3 linked regions of the Homo sapiens genome follow. The protein of the gene in region 1 interacts with the protein of each later gene in a pairwise test. Each region holds a gene or a part of one and is shown on either strand. Other genes may lie near its edges.

Evidence for each region.
Region 2: the proteins of CIC (region 1) and CPAP interact in a two-hybrid assay, tested with the Homo sapiens proteins (one large-scale study listed by BioGRID and IntAct).
Region 3: the proteins of CIC (region 1) and TRIM22 interact in a two-hybrid assay, tested with the Homo sapiens proteins (one large-scale study listed by BioGRID and IntAct).

What each region holds. Positions count from the first base shown.
Region 1 is NC_000019.10:42,286,170-42,289,823, forward strand, and holds part of CIC (protein capicua homolog), read left to right. Parts: exon of another isoform or gene 1-167; intron 168-601; coding exon 602-751; intron 752-836; coding exon 837-1,071; intron 1,072-1,150; coding exon 1,151-1,280; intron 1,281-1,375; coding exon 1,376-1,558; intron 1,559-1,640; coding exon 1,641-1,806; intron 1,807-2,718; coding exon 2,719-2,921; intron 2,922-3,011; coding exon 3,012-3,237; intron 3,238-3,654. UniProt on the Homo sapiens protein: Transcriptional repressor which plays a role in development of the central nervous system (CNS). In concert with ATXN1 and ATXN1L, involved in brain development.
Region 2 is NC_000013.11:24,902,342-24,905,995, forward strand, and holds part of CPAP (centrosomal P4.1-associated protein), read right to left. Parts: coding exon 3,005-3,654; intron 1,718-3,004; coding exon 1,585-1,717; intron 1-1,584. UniProt on the Homo sapiens protein: Plays an important role in cell division and centrosome function by participating in centriole duplication. Inhibits microtubule nucleation from the centrosome. Involved in the regulation of slow processive growth of centriolar microtubules.
Region 3 is NC_000011.10:5,699,636-5,703,289, forward strand, and holds part of TRIM22 (E3 ubiquitin-protein ligase TRIM22), read left to right. Parts: intron 1-3,654. UniProt on the Homo sapiens protein: Interferon-induced E3 ubiquitin ligase that plays important roles in innate and adaptive immunity.

The sequences.
Region 1 (3,654 bases):
GGTCTGGCACTCTGTGTTTGTGGTGGGGGAGGAAGGCAAGGAGCAGGACCTCTCCCACACCACAGTTGTAAGAGACCCCACAGCCTGTGCATAGTGAACGGAGAGTTGGAGGGGAGGGGACGTGGGGCCGTATGCCTCAGGAAAGGGAAAGAGAGCATGAGGCCAAGGTGAGACGCTGTGTTGGGCGGCGACTGGGCTGCTGGGAATGTGGCATGACGGGGGTGGGGGTCCCAGCCCGTAGAGGTCTGGGGCCTTGGGAGTGTGGGATGGCAGCCAAGCATGACCTGGTTTGTGGCAGGAGCAAATCGTTCCTCTGGCCTGGTCCCTGGTGGCAGGGCTGGTGGAGATTGGTGGGGGGAGGAGTGGGGCGTGAGTACTATTTCCCTTCCCTGCTTCTGTTTTCTTTTTTATAAATCTAGAAACCTTTCAGGGAGGAGTTTTTCCTGAGTGACGTTGCATGGACGAGTCCAAGAGGCTCTGGTGTTGGGGGTGGGGGGTAGACAAAAGGGGTGGGGCTACCTCATCTAGGGTGGGGAAGAGCTTGAGTTGGGGTTGGGGCCAGGCTCTCCTGCTGCACAGCTCACCTGGCTCCTTTCCACAGTGTGGACGAATGTGGAACCTCGCTCTGTGGCTGTGTTCCCTTGGCACTCCTTAGTCCCCTTCCTGGCACCCAGCCAGCCTGACCCCTCCGTGCAGCCGAGCGAGGCCCAGCAACCTGCCAGCCACCCAGTGGCCTCCAACCAGAGCAAAGGTGAGGGCTGGTGGGGACTGGGGGGAGGCAAGGGTGTGGGGTCCAGGTGGCCTAGGAGCCCTCTGATCTACCTCTGTGTCCCCAGAACCTGCTGAGTCGGCAGCTGTTGCTCATGAACGGCCACCAGGTGGGACAGGGAGTGCTGACCCTGAGCGGCCCCCTGGAGCCACATGCCCTGAGAGCCCAGGACCCGGACCCCCACACCCTTTGGGGGTGGTGGAATCTGGTAAGGGTCCGCCTCCCACCACGGAGGAGGAGGCCTCCGGCCCCCCAGGAGAGCCCCGGCTGGACAGTGAGACAGAGAGTGACCATGATGATGCGTGAGTTCCCTGAGGCCTGGGACTTGGGGGTGGGATGGCCAGAGACATGGCCCTCACTGTCCCTGCTGCCCCGCCGCAGCTTCCTCTCCATCATGTCTCCTGAGATCCAGTTGCCTCTACCGCCCGGAAAACGTCGGACCCAGTCCCTCAGTGCCCTACCCAAGGAACGGGACTCATCTTCTGAGAAGGATGGACGCAGCCCCAACAAGGTACTTTATCCCTGCCTGTCCTGTGCTCACCCCGTGGCCACCCACACCTGTCTGCCAGGTCCTAACTGTCCCGCTCTGGGCTGTGTTTAATGCAGCGGGAGAAGGACCACATCCGGCGGCCCATGAATGCCTTCATGATCTTCAGCAAGCGGCACCGGGCCCTGGTCCACCAGCGTCATCCCAACCAGGACAACCGGACCGTCAGCAAGATCCTGGGCGAGTGGTGGTATGCCCTGGGGCCCAAGGAGAAGCAGAAGTACCACGACCTGGCCTTCCAGGTAACGCTGTTGCCTCTTGGCTCCTCCCAGCTTCTTCTGGTGGGGTGGGTGAGTGAAGGGTTGCCCTGCCCTCTCCTGCCAGGTGAAGGAGGCCCACTTCAAGGCCCACCCAGATTGGAAGTGGTGCAACAAGGACCGAAAGAAGTCCAGCTCAGAGGCCAAGCCCACGAGCCTGGGGCTGGCAGGAGGGCACAAGGAGACGCGGGAGCGGAGCATGTCGGAGACGGGCACTGCTGCTGCCCCTGGGGGTTAGTCAGCCCCTTGGCTCTCCCACCCTGCCACCTCCCTCCCCGAGAGCCACCAGCTACCCCCTTGCTTGCTCCTCCCCTGCCCCAGCAGCTCCTCTCTGCTCTATCGCTTTAATTTGGCGACCCTTATCCGTAAAGGAACCGGCAGTTGATTCATGTGACGGAGCCAGGGAGATCCACACAGATACTAAGATTCCCAAACAGCAATCTCGTTATCAACTGTTGTTTAACGAGTGTTTACTATGTGCCTGGCACTACAGGGAATATAAGCTGTAGTCTGCAAAACCCCATTCTATTTCTAGAAGAAGAAACTGAGGTTCAGAGAGGCAAAATCACTTGCTTAAAGTCATAAACAAGCAAATGACAGAGCCAGAATGTAAACCCCAGTTCGGCGGGCCCCCAGCACCATAGTTGGGGCCACTGCAGCTCGCAAACACCCCTGATGGGCTGCTTCCACTTATTGAGGTTGTCTGGTGTGCCTGGCGGTGTTCTGGGGCACATTTTTGGAGTGAGCCTATGGGTATGGCAGTTCTGTGAGGTTAGATGGATAGTTGCTATGGATATGCACTTCTATGAGAGTGGGGACACTAGTTACTTCCTCTTTGAGATGAGGGAACCGAGGCTCAGGCCAGCGGTTGGCTAGCCAGCACCACATGAACCTCTCTCCAGGCCTCCTTACTTTCAGGAGGGCTGCCCCCCAGGGAATGGGCCTGCTGCAACCCCAGAGGGCAGGAATCAGCAGGAATGAGATGCTGGACTGGTGGTGGGTGGTGGTTTTTTTTTTTCACCAAGTGGCCCAGAAATTCCAGCCTGCTTCTGCCTAGTACCTAGAAATATCTATGGGTTGTTGGGCCAGTCTAGGTGCTGGTGACAGGCTTACTGACTGTCATAGCGCCACTCTCTACTTTACAGTGTCCTCTGAGCTCCTGTCCGTTGCAGCCCAGACACTCCTGAGCTCAGACACCAAGGCTCCGGGGAGCAGCTCCTGTGGGGCAGAACGGCTACACACAGTTGGGGGACCTGGCTCAGCCCGGCCCCGAGCTTTCTCCCACAGCGGGGTACACAGCCTGGACGGCGGAGAAGTAGACAGTCAGGCGCTACAGGAACTGACGCAGGTCTAGGGTGCAGGCCCCCTAGTGGGGGTGGGCAGGGAACCTGTCCAGGGCAGCAGCCCCGCTGAACCCTCTCTGCCACCTATCCTGCAGATGGTGTCTGGCCCTGCATCGTACTCTGGCCCAAAGCCTTCTACCCAGTATGGAGCTCCAGGACCCTTTGCAGCCCCTGGTGAGGGAGGTGCCTTGGCGGCCACTGGGCGGCCCCCGCTGCTGCCCACCCGAGCTTCTCGTTCTCAGCGTGCGGCCAGTGAGGACATGACGAGTGATGAGGAGCGCATGGTCATCTGTGAGGAGGAAGGGGATGATGATGTCATTGGTGAGCATTGCAGGGCCCAGAATCTTGCCCAGGACCCAGCAGGCCAAGGCTCAGAGGGTGGGCAGAACTTGGATCCAGGCCCCTAGGCCCCTTTGTTTTCTTTTCCACTTGGTTTATGGTTGCATGTGGCCAGTTCAGGCCCTGCCGAGTAAATCCAGCCCTGCCCTCAGGAAGCCCCCAGCCCTGCAGGAAATCTGGAGGACAGGGGGCATGACCAGATCTTCAGGTGCAGTGTTAGGGGCTCTGTCCTGCAGGCTCATAGGCTCCTGCACTGGGCAGTGGGCACTGGGCATGTGGGCACAGCCCTGGGCTGAGGAGTAGCCTTCCTGGACAGCACTCCCTGCCGGTTTGGAGCAGAGCTGAGATCCAGGCTCCAGACTGTTTCTCCTGGGTCCCCCTGCATCTAGCCCCCTCCCC
Region 2 (3,654 bases), on another chromosome or scaffold:
GAGACGTTTTAAAAGTGATCTTGGGTGGAGAACGGATTGGAATAAGTTCCACATTTTACCCATAACTACTATGATAAGCATACATTTACAGTATGTATCAGCTGAAAAACAAAGATGTTTCCATTAAAAAGTAACAAATTTTCAGAATTTGATTTTTAAGCATACTGCAGATTATAGTATAGTAACCGAATTTCCTTTTTAAGTGGATTAATAGCTGTCTATAAACCTTTATCTGGAACTTAGGGGCCAGATGTGCTTTAGAATTCATATTTTTCAGGTTTTAGAAAAGAAATACGGAAGAGATGTTAAGGAAGATGGTGGAGTAGGAAGCTCCAACAATCAGTCCCTCCACCAAAGCAGCTATTGAACTAGCAGCACCTGTCAGAATCAACCACTTCGGAACTCTGGACACTAACGAAAGACTTGCAGCATCCTGGGGAGTGCTAAAGAACAAAGAGGCTGGGAAATTTGGGTGAATTTCAGCATTTGCATAGCAGCTACCATCCCCTAGATCCCATCCCGCAGCAGGCAGCCATGGGAACTACAGTTGTATGAATTTCTCCTCAAACATTAAAATAACAAATACCAAAAAACAAAGAAATACGGTGTGTATGTGACATATAATATCCCCAACAAGACCCAGAGCAACACCTGGAATAAAAAGTACTAGTATGTTCCTGCAACAGAACTTAGTACTATTCACAAGTACAATTAAAAAATATGTCTACGTAAAATTTATATAGAGAGAAATAATAAATATAACATATATAAATAGCCTCATGTAAGTTCAGTTCAAGTTTTGCTAACCAATAAAGTCAGGTAAGATCATGACCTAGGGTAGGAGACGATATGTCATACTATCGACTGCTGTAGGTGGAGTTGTGTCCTCTAAAACAATATGTTGAAGTCCCAATCCCTGTGAATAGTGCCTTTGCAGATACAATTAAGATGCCAGTTAAGATGACGTTATACTGGAGTAGGGTGGGCCCTTAAACCAATATGACCCTATCCTTAAAAGAGGCACCAAGACAAACACACACAGAGGAGAATGCCATGTGAAGACACACACAGAGGGAAGATGGCCATGTGACCACAGAGGCAGAGACTGGAGTGATGTAGCTGCAATCCAAGAAATACCAACGTGTGCCTGAAACCACCAGAAGCTGGAGGAGCCAGCATGGCCCGCCTTGCTGATGCCCGGACTTTGGACTTACAGCCTCCAGAATCACAAGAAAATACATTTCTATTGTTTAAAGCCACCCAGTTGCTGGTACTTTGTTACAGCAGCCCAGAGAAACCAATACACTAACTAGCCAAAGTACCACTTGAAGGTACCATAGCTCCAAACTGTTTTTCAAATTTTAATTTATGATCTCTCCACTAAGAAAAATTCCCCTTTGTACACATCATTGACTACCCTGGGTCATTTTATTCAGTAAAAAAAACTTATATGATACAGATTTCACCTCCTTTTCAATTATATTTGTTTGACTGATTTAAATTGTTTCAGACTGTTTATAGATGGTCTTAAAGGTATAACTGAGTCACTGCATATTTTTTCCCAACTTACAGACCCAAACGTACCTGAGTTTTTCCAAGGCACTTTCTCGTTCAATGCGAAGTTTAGCTAAAGATGCGTTCTCAGCTTTAAACTTTTCTATTTCTGTTTCCAATTCAATAATTTTCTCTCTCAAAACCTGGGATCGAGCATTGTCACCTATGAAATAGGCCATAAATACTGAACTTCAAAAAAGGCATTACTGCAGCAAAAACACTAGCTAGCTAGTAACACTAAGAGCCAAGAATATGGCAAACATCTGTGCTATTAAAATGCATTAGAAACAATGCTTCAAACATGAAAAGGAAAAAAAATTAAACCTAACTTTCCTGAGGAAATCAGTGGGAATTTATGGAAGAATTAATCTACCTCAAAAGAGTATCGACCTGACAAGGAATCAACATGATACATAAAAAGAAATCATTCAAATCAATTTTTCAAAGACGAATATATATAAATAGCTTAAGAATAAGTAATCCACAAGAGATCTGAAGAGCTAATCAACACCAAAATCAAAGTTTACCCCTACTATTAATCAAATAAATGCAAATTGTTTTCCCTTTATCAAATTTGCTATTTAAAATGTAAAATAGCCAGTGCTTCTGTCCTTCAAGCATTTTTATCAATTAGTACTTTTTTAGAAACTAAATGTGATCCACAAGGCTAAAGAAATGAGCTAAGTTATACAACTCTGTCATATTAAAACTACATAGAAAAAATGACTGGAATGAAATATCCCAAAATGGCATAGCAGTTACTTTTGGGTAGTTAAGTTGTAAATATTTTTGCTTCTATGCTTTTTAAGCTTCCAAACTTTGTACAAAAAAATTACTTTTAAAATCAGAATTTTTGAAAATTAACGTTATAATTTCTATTTTAATTTCTATTTTAAAGCACCTATGCTCTGCTAGTTTATAATATAATATAATGGAAAGGAATCTTTCAGGGTGAGTTTAAAAAGTCCGTTACATCAACAGAAATACTACACATCCGTTAAATGGAATGAGGTAGGTGTGTACATGCGTTAGAACAATCTTCAAAATTTATCATAAGCAAGGTGCAGGACAGTATACAAAAAGAGTCTTTTCATTTGTATAGAAAGGTAATTATATACAAACTGACACATATGCTTTTATATGCACGGACTCTTTAGAATACACAAACGAAATGGTAATACTGGTACCTCTAGGAAGGGGTACTTGAACCAGGTCTGGGGAAGAAAGGAAACGTAGAAGCTTTGATGTTATCTCACTTTATTAAAAACTAATTAATTTTAAAGCCTCATATAGACCCATAAAATAAATCAAATTTTTACAAATCACCCATTAATTTGACTTAATTCTATTGAGCAATAAGGAAAGTTAGGATTTTAAGCATTCTGACAGCATACTGATTAATGTTAAATTTCTAACATTCTGATACATATTTTATAATGCTCTGACTCACCAGGTGGTTGGTCTTGACTTATGTTTAACTTGAGTTCATTTCCCAAGTGTGAATCTGACTTTGGTTTTGGTTTCAAAGAAGGAAAGAATTTCATCATCAGCTCCGATGTAGGAGGACTTCTGCTCCTCCTGGACTTGCTCAAGTCTTCTCCCCTCTTGACTGGTGCAATCTTCCTTTTTATTGTTTTGTCCAGGATACCTATTTCATTATTAGGGTAGCATGTCTGCGGCGTCCCATAAGTGGATTCATTCCCAAGAACAACATCATGGTTACACAAATTCTCTTCAAGGTCAGTCCAAGTTCTTTCATCATCAAAGTCCATTTTACTCAGACTTAGGGATGAGGATCTCGAGGGCTCAGACACTTTATGTTTTATGCTTTCCATGATAGACTCATCGCTACTGTAATCTTTATCAGACAAATCCAGATCAACATCTCTCCTTTTATCTTCTTGGGTCCTGGTGTCCTTAAAAGGCCCCTTATCATCACAGACTTGTGGGCTATCCTCTCTGCTGCTGATGCCCCTCTCTCTATCCTCAGTCGATGGTTTTATGGTAACATCAAGCTGTTCCTCAGAGTCAGTGCTACTGTCACTATTTGGAACACCTTCATCGTCACGTGCATTCCATTCAGTCTGATTTTCAGAAGTG
Region 3 (3,654 bases), on another chromosome or scaffold:
TTTATATGAGTAACAATACAAAAGCTTATAAAAAGCAATATAAAAAGTTTCTAGGTTCTTCACATCCTTGTTAATACTTGATTATTTCCTTTTTTTTTTTTTTTTTAGTTACAGCCTTTCTAGTGGGAACATAATGGTATCTCAATGCAGTTTTGATTTGCTTTTTCCTAATAACTAACACTGCTGAAAAGCTTATTATTTCCACATGTAGATTCTGTACCTTTTTAAAGAGTTTTTTCTGTTTTACTTTTGGTGCTATTGTAATTTTTTTTTTATTTCAAATTTCAATTCTTCATTGCTGGCACATAGAAAGGAAACTGACTTTAGTATTTTAATCTTGTATATTGCAACCTTGCTATAATTACTTATTAGTCATAGAAGAGTTTTTTTTTTAATGTCAATTCTTTGGCATTTTCTACATGGAGAATCATGTCATCTGAGAATAAAGTTAATTGTTTCATACTCTGCAGTTTGTATGGTTTTTTTTTTTTGGTGTATTTTTTTGGAGACGGAGTCTCTTACTGTTACCCAGGCTAGAATGTGGTGGCACAATCTCACCTCACTGCAACCTTCACCTCTCAGGTTCAAATAATTCTCCTGCCTCAGCCTCCCAGGACTAGCGCACACCGCCACACCTGGCTACATTTTTTTTGTATTTTAGTAAAGACAGGGATTCACTGTGTTGCCCAGGCTGGTCTCGAACTCTTGAGCTCAGGCAATCTGCCCGCCTTGGCCTCCCAAAGTGCTAGGATTAAAGGCGTGAGCCACCGCGCCTGGCCAGCAGTTTGTATAGTTTTTATTTGTCTTTGCTTGTTTTATTACACTAGCTAGGACTTCTAGTACAATGTTCAACAGGGATGGTGAGAGGGGATATCCTTTCCTTTTTTCTGACCTTAGGGGGAAAGTACTCAGTCTCTCACTTATAAGTATGATGTTAGCTATAGGAGTCTTTTTTTTTTTTTTTTTTTTTCAGATTTGTAATGAAGTTGAGAAACTTCCTCTTTTTTTCTTTTTTTTGAGACGCAGTCTCGTTCTGTCACCCAGACTGGAGTGCAGTGGCACGATTTCGGCTCACTGCAAACTCTGCCTCCCGGGTTCAAGCGATTCTCCTGCCTCAGCTGGGACTGCAGGCCGCCCACCACCACATCCAGCTAATTTTTGTATTTTTAATAGAGACAGGGTTTTGCCATGTTGGGCAGGCTGGTTTTGAACTCCTGACCTCAGATGCACCCGGCCGAGAAACTTCCTCTTTATTCCTAGTTTGCTGAGACTTTTTATCATGAATGGTGTGAATTTTGTCGAATAGCTTTTCTGCCTCAGTTGATATAATCATATGATTTTTCTTCTTTATTGATATGGGAGATTACATTAATAATTTTCAAAGATTGAACCAGCTTGCATACCTTGAATAAATCCCACTTACTTGTGGTGCACAATTTTTATATATATTTTGTTGGATTTGTTTTACTAACGTACTGTTGAGAATTTTTGCATCTGTGTTCATGAGAGATACTGGTTTCTGGTTTTCCTTTCTCATAATGTCTTTACTTGGCTCTGGATTAGGGTAATGCTGACCTCATAGAATGTGTTACAAAATAGTCCATCTCCTTTCATTTTCTGAAACAAATTTGGGGAGAATTTTAATAATTTCCTTCTCCAACTTTTGGTAGAATTCATCAGTTTACCAATAAAACCCACTAAGCCTATTTTTAAAGTGTTGCTTAATATTTTGGAGTATTACAGCTGTCTGTTACTGATTACTAGTTAAATTCTATTGTTGCGTAAGAAAACATTTTGTATGAGTTCAATTGTTTACATTTGTTAACGTGTATTTTGTGGTATAGAATGTGTTATAGCTTGGTTAATTTTCAATGTGAGCTTGAGAAGAATAGATATTTGCCTTTAGATGGAATATTCTATGAATGCCATTTAAATCAGTTGCTATATAGTGTGCTGTTCAGGTACAACTGTAGCGGTAATCATTTCCTGTGGCTGCTGTAAGAAATTGTCACAAACTTTATAACTTAAAACCTCATACAAAAAAATTGTCTCATAGTTCTGAAAGCTCAGAGCCCAAAATCAATGTACCAGCAACCACCAGAAGCTAATAGGGAAGCGTGGAACAGATTACAGCAGGGACCAACATTACCAATATCCTGATTTTGAACCTAGCCTCAAGAACTGTGAGAGACTAAATCTCGGTTGTTTAAAAACCATACAGTTTGTGCTGCTACGTTGTTAGAGCAACCCCAGAAAATTAAAACGCCTACCATTTTTCACTGTTTTCTATTGACCGTACTTGCTCTTTGCTTTTTTTTCCCTTCCTCTCTTTTTCTGCCCTCTTTTAACTATTTTGTATTATTCAATTGATTATTTTATATTATTCAATTTTCTTTCCTCTCTTAGCTTATTAGTTATATATTACTAATATACATCACAAATATAGCTATATTAGTTATATATAATATACATAACTAATATATATTAGTTATATATTACATATACATAACGAATATATATTAGTTATATATTACATATACATAACTAATATATATTAGTTATATATTATATATACATAACTAGTATACATAACTAATATATATTATATTATATATAGTTATATATAATATATAACTAATATGCCTAAAGGTATATATATAAATATAACTAATATGCCTAATAATATAACTAATATAACTAATAATAATATAACTAATATGCCTAAAGGTATATATATAAATATAAAACAAACATACAAATATATTTGAAATATAAAAATATTTTAAAAATATAAACTTTTTATAAATATATAAAAATATATTTTAAAAATATAAATAACACTATACATATATATATAAAGGCTTAGTGGTTTCCCTGGAGTTTGCAATATGCATTTACAACTAATCTAAGTCTAATTACAAATAACACTATACCCCTTCACATGTAGTGCAGGTACCTTAGAGCAGAGTATCCTCAATCTTGAGTAACGTTGCTGTCATTCATTTCACTTATCCATAAGCTGTAATCGCCCACTACATTGTTGATATTATTACTTTAAGCCATTATCTTATATATTAGTTGAGAATCAGAAAAACAAAATATTTTATTTACCTTTACTTCTTTTTCAGTGCTCTTTCTCTCTTTGTGAAGATCTGAATTTCAGACATATACTCTTCTTCCCCCTGAATAATGTCTTTTAACGTTTATGGCAAAGTATTTCCTTCATTATTGCGGGACAAAATTTCTGAATATAAAATTCTTGAGTCATGGGTGTTATTCTTTCAAAACTTTAATATTTATTCCACATGCTGAACTTTTACTAGTTTTAGTAGTTGTGTGTTTGTGTGTGTATATTCTTTGAGATCATTTACATACTGAATCATGCTGTCTGTAAATAAATATAGTTAATTTTAAAACTGCAACTTTTATTTTAGATACAGGGAGTATATGTGCAGGTTTGTTACATGGGAATATTGGGTGATGCTGAGGTTTGGGATACAGATCCCATCACCCAGGTAATGAGCATATTACCCAATCAGTAGTTTTTCAACTCACACACCCTCCTCCCTCCCCTAGTGTAGTCTGTAGTGTCTATTATTTCCATATTTATGTCCACGTATGCTCAATAGTTAGCTTCCACTTATAAGTGAGAAC